Linked DNA regions of Homo sapiens. The protein of the gene in region 2 purifies or fractionates together with the protein of the main gene of each other region. This does not show direct contact. Each region holds a gene or a part of one and is shown on either strand. Other genes may lie near its edges.

Region 1 (7,024 bases), about 30 Mb from region 2:
ACCGCTGGTCACCTGTCTAATCCCTCCTTCACTTCCCCCCATCTCTGTATCATTACCCTGTTTCATCTTCAGGGTACTGTGACTATCTGAAATTATTTTGTTGTTTATTGTCTATCTTCCCACTTTATAAAAATAATCTCTGAGGGCAGGGCGATTTTGTCTATTTACTACAATATCCCCAATACATATATAATAATTCCTGGCACTTAAGAGGGTTTAATAAATATTTGCGGAATGAATGAATGAATAAATTATCTCTAGCTCAGCTCAAATCCATATATCCAACAGTTTACCAGATAAATCTACCTGGAAAACTCACAGATGCCTCAAATGCCAAACATCCAAAACTAAAATGATTGTTTTGACCACCTCACTCCTGTATCTGTACTGAATCAATGCCTTATCTCAGTGGCATTCCCATCTACCTTATTCTTCATGCCAGAAAAATGGGTGTGATACTTCCCTTCTCCCTCTCTACTGCTCCTTCAACCCTGTCAATCACCAAGTTCCATCCATTCGCCCTTTTAACTCTCTCTCAAATGAGGTAATTCATTTTTATCACCACAGACATTACCTAGTAGAAGTAAGCCATCACTAATACTTTACCAAGAATGCTTCAACAGCCTTCTGGCTTCCCTGCCTCCACTATGGTCTCTTCTAATATTTCAAGAATATGACTCTATTACCACTTTGACGTAAGTCATCACTGCTTCCTCTGCTTTTAAGATGATGTTTACTCTCCTTCTACGGTCTAAAGAAGTCTCTGGTTACCTCTTCTTCCTCATCAGTATCTACTGTTCAACTCATACTCCAGGGCTAAGTGATACTAAACATGTTTTAGCTCCCTAGCCTGCAGGTCTTTGCACATGCTGTTTCCTCTCTGTTGAACAGTATTCCTTTCCCCTCCCTCCTTTTCTGGCTAACTTCTACTAATCCTTAAAGTTCAAGAAGTCTACTTGGATTGACCCACCCCACCTCAAAAGGTGCTTTTTTCCATCTGTGCTCCCATAGCATGCTGAACTTCCTGATCATTTTACTCATAACTCTGTGTTATAACTGCTTTTTTTTGTTATTTGTCTTACTAAATACTCTGGTCAGGAGGGATAAATGTTATACCTGTATGCCAAACTTCAAGGAAACAAATGATTCAATTGTAGCACAAAATAATTAAAAAAAAACCGTTTTCATGAGACTGTAGATACAAATGTTCCAAATTCATGTTATTTTCTGCTACTCCCCAGAATGCTTTTAGTGTGTTGGAAGCTAGCATCACAGACACAGCACAAAAACCCTAAGAAACAGGTGGTAGAAACGCTGGTTGCAGAGTGGCCATTCTTAAGAACAGACAAGAAAAAGCTGCCTGGGCAAGGTGGCAACAAAATCCTAGAGAAAGCAGTTAATCTGTGCTTTTCCAAACGTTGTGCTTATCTATCTACAGTTTAGTACTTTTTAAAAAACCTTTTGGAAAGTAATCATAAGCATGTGGAAGTCCCCAACTTTCAAACACAACTATGAGGATCCCTTTTGTAAATCAAGCAAATATTCATTCAATAAAATCTACTTTTTATTTTTGAAGATGAATTTTATATATGTTGAAATGACTTACTTCAGGAAACATGTGCCTAAACTTTCTAAGGTAAGTCTGATACTTGAAACAGAGGTTTTCAGTACAAACATTAAAAAGCCATTATGGAAGTGAGGCTGCATGCCAATTCAGTCAGCTTGAGTTAATGAAAAATAAATATTTGTCAGAAAATATTGCTAAAATGATTTGTGTCTTAAGATACGAACCATACCACCAAAATCGCCAAAAGGCACAAGAGAACAACTCGTTGCCTGGAAAAATAATATCCAATTCATTTGATTATGACATTTATTATATAGAAGTTTCTCAATTTACCAATTAAATGTTTACTGAATTTCAAATTGCTACATTTCAATTGCTGAGATTCATCTTTATAGAAACCCCTGAGGGCTTGTTATCTTAGAACTATCATTCATGAGGCTGAAAAAGCAAAAGAAATAAAAGAGGCAAAAAAGAAAATGGTTACAATATATAAATATCCTGTTTTTTTTTTAATTTTTAGTTGAGTATGTTTGTAACCTCTAGCTTTGCTCTAAGGCAAGACATATGAAAATATATTTCAGTTGTAAGGCTTTTGAGATACAAGCAAAGGTTAATCTAAGCTTTGAAGGTCCATACGTAACCATATAGAAGATCAGTGTTTCCTGGTCCAATAAAGACAATCCTTTGTAGCTTTTGATACTATTTTCAAGTATTAAAACAATGAGTATGGGAGAGAAAGGATATTTCCTTGCCTGTTCTAATTTCAGATATCAGAGGAAGTTATAAGGTGAGAAATGTATACATAAATATAAAAAATAATGGTTTAAGTTTTGCTTCTAATATATGCTTCTATGGACCTAACAGTTTTGGTAGCACAGTGAAATTCCATATAGCTGACAAGTCACTGTTCAGGATTCACCTTTCCAAAGGTCCCCCCTTTTATATAATAGTGATTTCTAGAACAAGAATATTAGTCATATCCTATCATTATAGATATATACTTCTGTAATACTTTTCTTCAAATTCCTACAGGGCCTTCTCACTAACTGTCTTAAAAAAAAGAACTTACAGTCAAAGAATCTTCACCATCATTATGTCCTCTACGATTATGAGCTCTCCCTCTACCATCAGAGATACTGAGCAAGTCTCTTCCAAAGGGTTCAGAAAAACTTCTTATCATCTGTCGCATATTTTCTCGGTGTGCAAGAATGGACTCACTGTTGAAAATATACATAATCATGAAAGATTCAGTGTTGGAGTTTAAATAGTAAGTAGGCAGGTAAATATTACAAATAATTATTTTGGGCTAATATGTTTGTTAGATAAAAGAAGAGTAGAAGAGAACTCTATTTTATTCATAAATAGAATAGAATTATCTCATAAAGATCCATTATTAGATGGTTCCCTACTTACAATGGTTTAAGTTAAGGTTTTTTGACTTTACTGTGGTATGAAAGCACTCCACATTCAGGAGAAACAGTACTTCAATGATCCATACAGCCATGCTGGTTTTCACTTTCAGTATAGTATTCAATAAATTACATGAGACATTCAACACTTTATAATAAAGTAGGCTTTATGTTAGATGATGTTGCCCAACTGTAAACTAATGTGTATGTTCTGATGATACTCGGTAGGTTAAGTGTATTAAATGCATTTTGATGTATAATATTTTCAATTTGCGATGGGTTCATTGGAATGTAATCTTATCGTTAAGTTGAGAAGCATCTGTAGTTATAAATAAAATTAATGAAAACCTGTTACTGTTATCCAATATAATTCATTTAATGCATAATAAAAAAAACATCTTTATTTATCCCATATTGCATAAAAATACCAACACTATAATCTGATATTTACCCTTTCATCACAAGTCTCATTAAAGAACCTAAATTTTTTTTTTTTACCTTATCACAGTGGTTTCCCAACTTTGTTCCAGTTGGACAGTTACTGACCCACTAATCAATTCCTTATTCCTCGTTCTAGAACTTAAGGTACACCATGATTGGAGCTCACTTTACCAAGGCAATCTTATGCTTTCCTGCAGCCCAGTGGAACTCCCTCTCCAATAGTCTGGCCTCCTTTCAGATTCTCCACTTCAGTTATTCTTCTTAGGTCACCCTTCCCCCTTCTAATTCCAATCCTCTGATGTCATCATAAAGAAGCTAGAAAGTTTTTAAAATTTTTTCTTGGCCAGGCGTGGTGCCTCATGCCTGTAATCCCCGCACTTTGGGAGGCTGAGTCAGGTGGATTGCTTGAGGTCGGGAGTTCAAGACCAGCCTGGCCAACATGGTAAAACCCCATCTCTACTAAAAATACAAAAATTAGCCGGGTGTGGTGACGTACGCCTATAATCCCAGCTACTCCGGAGGCTGAGGCAGGAGAATTGCTTGAACCCGGGAGGCAGAAGTTGCAGTGAGCCAAGATTGCACCATTGCACTCCAGACGGGGTGACAGAGCCAGACTCTGTCTCAAAAAAAAAAAAAAAAAAGAAATTTTCCTTGCAACTCCAGCTCAAAGGAGGAAGCTCAAAGGAGGAAGCTCAAAAATTCTGTCTTCTGCTCATAAGTCCAAGTAGAAAGAGCTTTTCCTCTGAATTTCATAGTATTTGTATACATAAACCTATTCCAAAAGAGCTCAGATTTATTCACACATTACCTTGGAGGTTAAAAAAAGCATAATTGTTCCAAGTGTGAGTTTAAGATTAGCAAACTGCTTAACTGGATTTGTGCTTGTATGTATAGACAGATGTTTTCATTCAGCCTTGTTTAGGCATAATTTACATTCAACGAAATTTACCAATTTTGTTGTACAGTTTGATGAATTTTAAAAAGTGCAGTCATAACCTCCACCATAATTAAGATGTAGAACATTTCTATCATTCCAAAAAGCTTCCTCGTCTCTTTGCAGATAATTACCTGCTCCTAGCCCTAGTTACCATGAATAGGCTTTCTGTCATTATAGTTTGGTCTTCTCCAGATTTCATATAATGGAATCACATAGTATGTCATCTTTTGTGTCTAGCTTCTTTCCCTTAGCATAATGCTTCTTTGATTCATCCATGTTGTTCTCTATTTCAGTTCATTCAGTTTTATTGCTAAGTTCATACATATATCAGTATCATAATCACAAAACTGTTTTTAGTTTTTGGCTATTATGAATAAAGCTACTATGAATATTTATGTACTAGTCTTTGTGTATACATAATTTGACTTAAGTAAACACCTCAGAGCAAGGACTGATGGCTTGTATTAGAAGAGTATGTAAATTTTATGAAAACTGTAACTGAGAGTTCCAGTTGCACTGCATTCTTGGTGAAATATAGGATAGTCAATGTTTAACTGTAGCCATTTGAGTGGTAGGGTCATAACATCTCATTGTAGTTTTATTTTGTATTATTTGTCATTCATGTATGTTCTTTGATAGAACCGTCTTTTCAAATACTTCCCCCATTTTTAAAAATCAGGTTATAAGAGTTCTTTATATATTCTGGACACAGACTTTTATCAGATACAGGTTTTAAATTTTTTCCCAGTCTTGGACTTGCCTTTTTCATTCTCTTAACATGAATATATTCAGCCACACAACCATGAATCTTTGTTAGGTCTTCAGTTTTTACCACATTTTGCTAATGTGTATAAGGATTTTGAGATGGGAAGATTATCCTGGATTATCCCAGTGGGCCCAATGTAATCACAAGGGTCCTTATGAGAAGGAGATAGTAGTGTCATAATCAGAAGATGCTACACTGCTGGCTTTAAAAATGGAGGAAGAGGCCAGAAGCCAAGGAACACAGCAGTATCTAGACGCTAGAAAAGACAAGGAAACAGATTCACCCCCATAAACTCCAGAAGGAATGTAGCCCTGCCAACACCTTGATTTTAGCCCAGGGAAACCCATTTTGGACTTCTGATCTCCACCATAAGATGATTTGTTGTTTTAAGTCTCTAAATATGTGGTAATTTGTTATAGAAGCAATAGGAAACTAATACAAGTTTTTTAATTTTAATTTTAAAATATACAAAAGTCTCACTCCTCTTTTAGAGTATAAGTTCTTCTAGAGTAGGAACTGTATCTTTATTCATTCATATTACCAACCTCTGTGCTTGACACACAGTATACATTATAAATGTTTATGGAGGGCTGGGCGCGGTGGCTCATGCCTGTAATCCCAGCACTTTGGGAGGCCGAGGTGGGTGGATCACGAAGTCAAGAGCTTGAGAAGAGCCTGGCCAACATGGTGAAACCCCGTTTCTACTAAAAGTACAAAAATTAGCTGGGTGTGGTGGTAGGTGCCTGTAATCCCAGCTACTCTGGAGGCTGAGGCAGGAGAATCACTTAAACCCGGGAAGTGGAGGTTGTGATGAGCCAAGATCATGCCATTGCACTCCAGCCTAGGCAATAGGGTGAGACTCCGTCTCAAAATAAAATAAAAAAAAATACAAAAATTCAAAATAAATAAATAAATAAATAATGTTTATGGAATTTGAACCATCCTATATATCAGATGGTCCCCCTACCATTTCTTGGCAAAATTACTAACTATTCTTAATTAAAGGCTCTGCTCACCTTGGTGCTTGCTACACAGAGAAAAATCTCCACTGCAACCAATGCCTGCAGTCTTGAAGTTCCTCCTTAGTGACTTTGGATTTTAGGGGAGGGGAAACTCCTATTTAAACTATACTTGGTTTTCTCTGGCCCAAGTATTTTAGTACATGGGACTTACATGTCCTGATGATAGTTCCAAGGGCTTCTTGTGCTTCAGTTTCAGCTGCTGCAGAGTAAGACCACCTGTATGTCTGAGAAACAACATCCTCAAATGAGGTTTGTTTATGCCATAGAAGCTTATGTCTTAATTGAGGCCATCCTGAATGTGGTCTCAAAATTTTGCGAATATCTATAAATATCTGTTTTTTATGATGCAGAAACACACGTATAAACTTTTTGTAGATTTGTAGTTCATTTTCCTGTCTTTAGATGAAAGCAACAAAACTGATGACTTAGAATGAGGGCAGTTTTTTTCTGCTTTTTTTTTTTTTTTTTTTTTTTTGAGACGGAGTCTCGCTCTCTTGCCCAGGCTGGAGTGCAGTGGCGCGATCTCGGCTCACTGCAAGCTCCGCCTCCTGGGTTCACGCCATTCTCCTGCCTCAGCCCCCCGAGTAGCTGGGACTACAGGCACCAGCCACCACACCCAGCTAATTTTTTGTACTTAGTAGAGACGGGGTTTCACCGTGTTAGCCAGGATGGTCTCAATCAATGTGTTATTCTGACATAACATGTATTAGTTATCTATTGCTGTTGTAACTTAGCAGCTTAAAACAACATTTGTTATGTCACAATTTCTGTTGATTAGGAATCAGGAGCAGTTTAGGTGGGTAGTTCTGACTCAGGGCCTCTCTGTAGGCTGCAATGAAGTTATCAGTTGAGGCTTTAGTCATCTCAAGTCTTGACTGGTGG
Region 2 (7,795 bases):
TGCCCATTATCTGGCCAGGTCTTCCGGGGTAAGCTCCACAAAGGCGGGAAAGTCTGTCCCTGTCTAGGACAGTGGCTGGCACACGAGGGCCGTCGGTAAACTCTTGGATGAACCAGGCTCAGAGACACACAGTGCTCAAGGTCACACAGCGAGTCAGTGAGGGAGGGGATGTGAAACCAGGGCCAAGGCTGCAGCGGACAGCAAATCCAAAGAAGTGTTCCACTCAATTCTGGTAAGAAAAATAGGAATTGATGATAAATATTGATTACTGACTGTAGTGGGTTGAATGGTGGCCCCCAAAAAGATATGTTCCTATCCTAATCCTTGGAACCTCTGAATGTGAGCTTATTTGGAAAAAGGATCTTTTCGGATGTAATTAAATTAAGGATGTCGAGATGAGATCATCCTGGATTATCTGAGTGGGCCCTAAATCCAGTGACACATGTCCGTATAGGAGATGGACACTGACGCAGCTGGAAGCTGGGGGCCAGGAGGGTTCTCCCTGCAGCCTCCAGAGGGAGTGCGGCCCCACTAACACCTCGATTTCAGACCTCTGGCCTCCAGAACTGGGGGAAGAGATTTCTTTTGTATTGAGCTACCCAGTTTGTAATAATTTGTAACAGCCCTAGAAAACGAATCAGGTGAGTGAGGTAACCAAATATTCTTAGGCATTTATATTCCTTTAATTCTTGTTCTGGTGTTGGATCATATATAGAAACAGCAATTCACAATACTGATTAATATCTGTTCCTACCTTCACCTCACCCCACTCCAATTAAGATCAAAACCATGCTAAACCACCTACTAACCACACCAATAAAGAGCCTAGATGTTTGGGTCACCAAGTCTTAACTAAAGATAGCCTTCCTGCCTGCCTTCTTTCCTTCCTCCCTTCCTCCCTCCCTCCTTCCCTCCTTCTTTCCCTTCCCTTCCCTTCCGTTCCCTGCCTTCCTTCCCTCCTCCCTCCCTCCCTTCCCCCTCCTTCCTTCATTTCCTCCTTCCTTCCTTCCTTCCTTCCTCCCTTTCTCCTTCCTTCCTTCTTTCTTTCCTTCCTCCCTCCCCTTCCCCCTTCTCCCTTCCCTCCCTTCTTCACTCCTGGCTTCTTTCCTTCCTCCTTCCTTCCTTCATTCCTCCCTTCTTCCTCCTCTTCCTTTTTCTAGTCTTCATCCCTTTCTATTATCCTCCCTCTCTCTCTTTTCTTTCAGTGCTCATGGGTGCTAGGTTTCAGGCTCCTAGCAGGGGACAGTGTGTGTTCTAACCAATCCCAAATGCCAGGAGGAATGGAGACAGACTGTAGAGACACTTTGTAAACCCAGCCTCCAGTGACCATCGCTGTCCCTCCATGCAGCTTATCAAAAGCACGACTCGCACCCCCATGCTGGGCATCCACCCACCTACACCTGCTGACACATGTGGCTTAGCAGAGGAGTTGAAGAGCAGAACTTCTCCACTGGATGTAGCTACAGATGAACCTGATTCTTTATCTCTGTGGCTGGATTTTTGTCACTATGTCTCGGTTAGCAGTTAGCACCTGCTGTCCCTTGCAGGCTTGTTCCTGGGGCGGGAGAAAGATGCTTGCCCTGCACAGTTCTCCATGATGGCGGTGGCAGTGGGAGAGGCACTGCTGTTGACTGTGTTGCTGGTGGGGAGAGGCACGGTGGGTGTCCATGGAGATGGATAAGGTGTCATTATATAGTAGAGGTGACCATGGGAGCAGTGTTGATGTGGAGGTAATGGTCATGGTGGGTGTGAGGGGGAGAGTAATTATGGGTGATGGTGGAGTTGATCATGATGATGGTGATGCTGGTGGTGACAGCAGCAAGGCTTGTGCTTGAGAGTAATTGATGATGGTAGTGGTGGTGGTGATGGTCATGCCAGAGGAGATGGTAACAGCGAGCCTTTGTTGTGGTTGGCAGTGATGGTGCAGGTATGATGAGGAGGTGATGGGAATGGCTCCTAGTGAGCCATTGGTGTGGTTGGCAGTGGTGACAGTAATGGTGATGATGAAGGTGAAGGTGGTGGAGGTAGCAGAGGTTGTATCTTGTTCGGCTATACCACAGTGACAGCTTCCACCTCTCAGTGGCTCACGACAAACATCTAGTTCCCCCCACTTCACTCACTGGTGCCTACAGGCAGCTGCCAGGGCCCCACCTCCCATAGCTTCTCACTGTGGGTCCCAGGCTGGAGAATCAGCTCTGACCTGCACACCCCTCTCTCATGACAGTGCCACTCAGAGACAGCAGGAACTTGGGCTGCCTCTGAAAGCTTCTGTTGGGCCATGATGTGTGGCAGTCTTGCTGCATCCCATGGTCAAGGCCAGTATCCATGGGGCAAAGAATGTTTCCTTCAGGAAGGTTCTGCAAATCTCAGGGCAATAGGAAGAGAGGCCTGAGATTCCCATGGGGAAGAGGGAGTGAGCAGTTCTCCAACATATGCCAGATGCTCAAGATGGGACTGACAGCGGGGCTGGTAACGATGGCTCTGCTGGGAGCAGTGTTGGTGCTGCTGGTGCCGGGGACACCCGTGGTGGTGATGGGATAGGAGGCAGGAATTGTGCTATTAATGGAGGATGGTGGTGAGGGTGGTTGTGGAAGAGGCAATGGTAGAGGGGGGTGCCGAGGGGTGAGAAGGACACAGTGGTGGACATGCTGGTGTGAGTGCCGATGGCGATGGTGATGGCACTGAGGTGTGGGGCTCTGTATTTTCTGTTGCTAACTTGGCATTACACCAACCTCTTCCATGGTCTCCTTGCATCCTGGAGAAATCTGAGGGATTTTCCAGAATCCCATCACCGGTATAATTCCAGACTAGAGCCTGCCAATACAAGGGATTTGGAGAGTGGAAAAGAGAGGCCGTTGCAGGCAGGTGACAATGGTGAGCTTTGCAACAGCTCGGGGCAATCTTCTGCGAAGACCCTGCTTCTGAGCCACAGGCTGAGGCATGGATGGGGAGCTTCCTGGAATACCGTGAGCTCCTCAGCAGCTCCCAGGCAAGCTCTAGAGAGCCGCTCACCTGGGAGCTGCAGGTGAGCATCTCGATTCCTTGTTCCCTGACCGCTGGTCCCAGACTGTTCAGGGTGCAGCGTGTAGTAAATGTCCTCCTCCTTGGTACACATTTGAGGGCTGTGTACTGTGAGGGTGATGGCGGCTCAGATGAAGGTGGTGGTTGTGATGGAGTTGGGTGTGAGGATAGCAGAGAGAAAGCAGATGGTGACATCAGGAAGGCATTGGAGGGGCAGTGGTGGTGGCAGTGATGATGGTGGCAGTCTAATTAGAGGCAGTGGTGGGTCTGGCTGAGGCAGACCCGGTGGTGGTGATGGTGGTGGTAGTAGAGGGGGCAATGACGGTGGTGATGGCAAAGGCGGTGTGAGTGGTTGATACTGGTGGCAGAGCTGATAAGGTGATGTCACAGATGGGATGGTGGGTGGAGATGGAGGTGGAGGAAGTGTGGTGACAGTGATGTGGTGGTGACACAATGCTGACACGGGTGGAGAGCACCGTGGTGACGGTGACAGAGATGATAGTGATAGTGGGGCTGGTGGCAGTGGTAGAGGAGATGGGGATGGGACGCTGGGGTGTTGATGGTGATGGTGACACTGCTGAGGGTGTTGGTGGCCTGACATTGTAAAGGTGAAGCCTGAAGTTTCCATGACGATGGAATCAGGACAGTGGAGGAGGGGTGGTGAAAACAATGTTAAGAGACAAAGGACCTAGTATGATGAGGCATCCAAGAATCCTGTGGCCGCCTCCCCGTCCTGGCCCTCCCTGCCTTGTTGGAGACCCTGGCTCTGGTCTGCGTTGTACTCCCAGGGGAAATTTCTTCCAGCCACTGCCCTGCTCCAACCCTTGTTCCTGGGATGGGTCTGTGGGAGTCAGCCAGGATGGAGACAGGGCTGGAGACCCCCTCACTGCCGCCCATTCAGGGCTGTCTTAGGGCACACAGAACAGACCACTCGGTAGGACTTACGGGAACAGGTGTGTCACCTGGGAGCAGGTCCCACACCTCACCATCAAGGGCATCCTGAGATGGAGGCCCCTGTGGGGAGCTCCCCATGAAGGGAGCTGTGGACCGTGGAGCCGGGCAGTGTGCAGAGGAGTTTCCCTTCTGCAAAGGGTTCAGGCTAGTCTCCTTCCACGCCAGTTTTTGGGGAGCCAGTGGGGAGCATCAGGGGCTCTGAGGCCTCCATAGGGCCTGCTGGAGGGACAGGGACACACAGGCATGAGCGCACACTTAGGCCCCACACGCTCCACCGTCAATTCTGTCAGGCCACCTCCCCTCTTCAAGCCTCTCTGTCCTCATTCACCAGTGGGTGCTTTTGGGGATTTGCCCTCTCTGGGGAGCCAGCCTAGGCTTCCTGGCCTCAGATGTCCCATGTCCCTCATCTCAGGCCCACCCTAAAGCCAACCCCGAGCCATGGCCAGGGAGAGAAGGACCTTCAGCGACCAAGCGAGGCCCAGAGAGGGCAGGGCACACCGAAGGTCACACAGCAGTACCAGGAAGGTCTCCCCCGGGCGAGCTGATGGAGCCGATTAAGCAGCCAATTGGTATTCGGAGCAGCCAGAGGCCCCTCTCTGTCTCTGTAATTAATGGAGTGGCTTTTTAAAAGGATTCTAATCACCCCCGATCCTATCTGCTTATCACTAGAGTTCCTAATTAGATGATCCTGGCAGTCACTCAGCTAATTCCCTCCAGCCCCCTGCAGGCCTGCCTGGCCTGGGCAGCCCACCCCACCCCCGGCCACCCTGGCCCGGCCAGATGGGCAGTTTGGGGCCTTCTCTCCCCTCAGGGCCCCTGGTCCTCTAACTGCATTAGCTCCAGGATGGATGGGCGACAGCGATGGATGGATGGACGGGCGGCTGGATGGACAGAGTGGCAGGCGAATGAAGGGGCTGAACGGTGGGCAGTCACAGAGTGGATGGGCGGATGGACAGACAGACGGGCCAAGGGGCAGATCCCACAGTGGGGAAGAGCTCAGCCTGTCAGGTGACACAGCCTGGGTTCCAACCCCAGCACTGCCACTCCCCAGCCATGTGTCCTTGGGGAAGTCAATAACCTGGCTGTGCCCCAGTGTCCTCATCTCATCTGTAAAAGGGAAGTAATGATGGTCCCCTCTCACAGGGTTACTGTGAGGAGCTCAGAATGGAGAAGGAGCTGTGTGTGCGTGTGCTGGCATCCTGGCAGTGTCGATAATGGGTGGGCAGAGACAGATGAAAGGGCAGCCTGCCTGGTGAGCCAGTGGAAGCCATGGTAGGCAGACAGGCCCATGGCAGGCTTACATGCAGATTGGTGGCCCATGGGGTGGGAAGGCGGTGGGCTACGCAACCGTAGAAGGGCCAGTGAGCTCACGTCCTCCCCAGTGGTGCCAGGGCGATCTCAGCTCTGCTCTCAGACCTCTTCAGGCAGCCTTCCTGCCCAGTCCTCCAAGCCAGTGATGACAGGTGCCCACTGGGTTGCCCAGATCCCTTCCCTGCCATCCCAACCCAGGTACATCCTTCCTGGTGGTGGCTCATGTGGTCTCTGGAGGCTCAGATCTAGCCCCAAGTAGGGGTTTACTGCCTGAGTGAAGGCATCATTTGCGGGGCCCTCTGAGTTCCAAGTTGCTTCAGCCAGTTAGGGCAGCTCCCCTCCTCCAGGGTCCCAGCACCCAGCCCCCCTGGCATACAGCAACCCTAGGCAGGGCTGTTACCCTGAGTTCCTCAGTTACTCGAAGCCTCCAGGAGGATCCAACCCCCAGAGCCTCTCCATTCACCCACGGGGCTCTGCAGTTTCCGGGGTGTGGCATTTCCGGGGTCTTTCTGGAAACAGTATAGAACAAAAAAGCCTGAAGTATCTTCCAGAGTAAAGGCGTGCATGCGTATGCACACATCTGTACCAGCAGATAGCCACCCATCTCCCCATACACACACCCATCAATCCACCCACCTAGCCACACACATACCCAGCTACCCACACACCCAGCCACTCACATACCCAGCCACTCACCCACCCAGCCACCCACATGCCTAGCCACCCACCCACCCAGCCACCCACACACCCAGCCACCCACCCACCCAGCCAGCCACTCACCCACCCAGCCACCCACACAGCCAGCCACCCAGCCACTCATACACCCAGCCACCCAGCCACCCACCCACCCAGCCACCCAGCCACCCATACACCCAGCCACCCAGCCACCCAGCCACCCATACACCCAGCCACCCAGCCACCCACACACCCAGCCATTCACACACCCAGCCACCCCCCCACCCAGCCACATGCACACCCAGCCACCCAGCCACCCACACACCCAGCCATTTGCACACCCAGCCACCCACACACCCAGCCACCCAGCCACCCACACACCCAGCCACCCACACACGTTTCCTGAGCAGTTGTCCATACACGTGCCGTGTACCAGGCACTCCCCTGGGTCTGGGGTCCATATGTCAGTGAAGGCACCAGACAAAGCCTTGCCCTTATGATGCTGACATGCAGTTGGGGAGATAGGAGAAACTGATAATGCATGAACATTTAACATGATGGCAGGTGTCATAGATGCCGTGAGAGAAAACAAAGCAAGACGGGGGCTTACAGGAAGCTGGGGCTCTTAGGGAGGTCAGATTGGGTGCCCCACACTTCCACAGGTATGCTCAGGCACCCACGCCCCCATGCATGTGAGCACGCCTGTACACATGGTCACACATGTGCACACAGGCCCTCCATGAGGCCTGTAGCCCTGCTGTGTTTCCAAAAGCATGGGCCCTGCCGTCCCTCACCGGGAGGTCTGGCTGCCTCGTGCCTCTCTCAGCCTGGGCCCTCCCATCACCCAAGCCAGGCCTGCTCCCTGGAGTCCAGGGCACATCTGGGTCTTACTAGGTCTGCTAGCAAAGGGCCTGGGCGGCTCCTATGCGGCCAACAATTCAGATTCACAATTCTTCCCTGCACTGGTCTGAGTGGGGGCTGGAAACAGTTGAATTCAGCAGCATCACCCCTGTCCTCCCACGCAGGGAACTCCCAACCCCAGGCTCTGGGGAAGGAGCAGACACACACCAATGTGCGAATGCAGCTGCAACACTCGCTGGAAGGAGAGGTGACACTGTCTGGGGCGTCTGGGAAGGCTGGTCAGAAGAGGTGACGCCTTGGCAGGGCTTGGAGAGGGAGGTTCCAGCAGGGTCGGCCTCACACACATGAAGGGTCTTGGATGTCGACACTGGACATCCTTCCCCAGGGAGGTAGTTCATTCAGTCATGGAACATTTCAAGGTGGGAAGAAGGTGTTCATCACATGGCTATGATCATGTACCCATTGCAGACCACCCTGTCCTGGGGGCATGAGGAGTTCATCTCCTAAATCAGTGGTTCTCAACAGGGACAGTCCTCCCTCCCCAGGGGACATTTGGCAATGACTGGAGGAGTTGCTACTGGCATCTCCTGGGTGGAGGCCAGGCAGGGCTGCTGCTGAACATCCCTGTCTAGTGCACAGGACAGCCTCCACCACAAAGAATCATCCAGCCCCAAATGTCAACAGCACCGAGGTTGAGAACTCTGTTCTAAGCCCTGAAATTATCATTTGACAAGCGCAATTATAATGCAATGTCTTTTTGATGCACCAAAGGCATTAATGTCTTCAATGTGAATATTTAAAACACACAGGTGACCTGTTTGGTGATTTATTTCTTAATAAAGCAGGAGCCTTGTAACATGGGAGTGGTTCCATGCAAAGGGAACAGCATGCACCAGGCTCAGTGGCTCAGTGGAAAGAGAGCAGGCATCTGTAGTTGACTACACCTGGGACCGAAGGGATGGTGGGAATAGAG

What was found.
Region 1: the proteins of DNAJB8 (region 2) and MLF1 purify together in Homo sapiens (affinity purification with mass spectrometry; 4 studies listed by BioGRID and IntAct, with this or other methods). This does not show direct contact.

The regions. Positions count from the first base shown.
Region 1 is NC_000003.12:158,588,194-158,595,217, reverse strand, and holds part of MLF1 (myeloid leukemia factor 1), read right to left. Parts: intron 6,367-7,024; coding exon of another isoform or gene 6,294-6,366; intron 2,785-6,293; coding exon 2,637-2,784; intron 1,837-2,636; coding exon 1,792-1,836; intron 1-1,791. UniProt on the Homo sapiens protein: Involved in lineage commitment of primary hemopoietic progenitors by restricting erythroid formation and enhancing myeloid formation.
Region 2 is NC_000003.12:128,463,882-128,471,676, forward strand, and holds the start of DNAJB8 (dnaJ homolog subfamily B member 8), read right to left. Parts: upstream 3,010-7,795; 5' UTR 2,733-3,009; intron 1,556-2,732; 5' UTR 1,395-1,555; intron 233-1,394; exon of another isoform or gene 230-232; 5' UTR 1-229. UniProt on the Homo sapiens protein: Efficient suppressor of aggregation and toxicity of disease-associated polyglutamine proteins.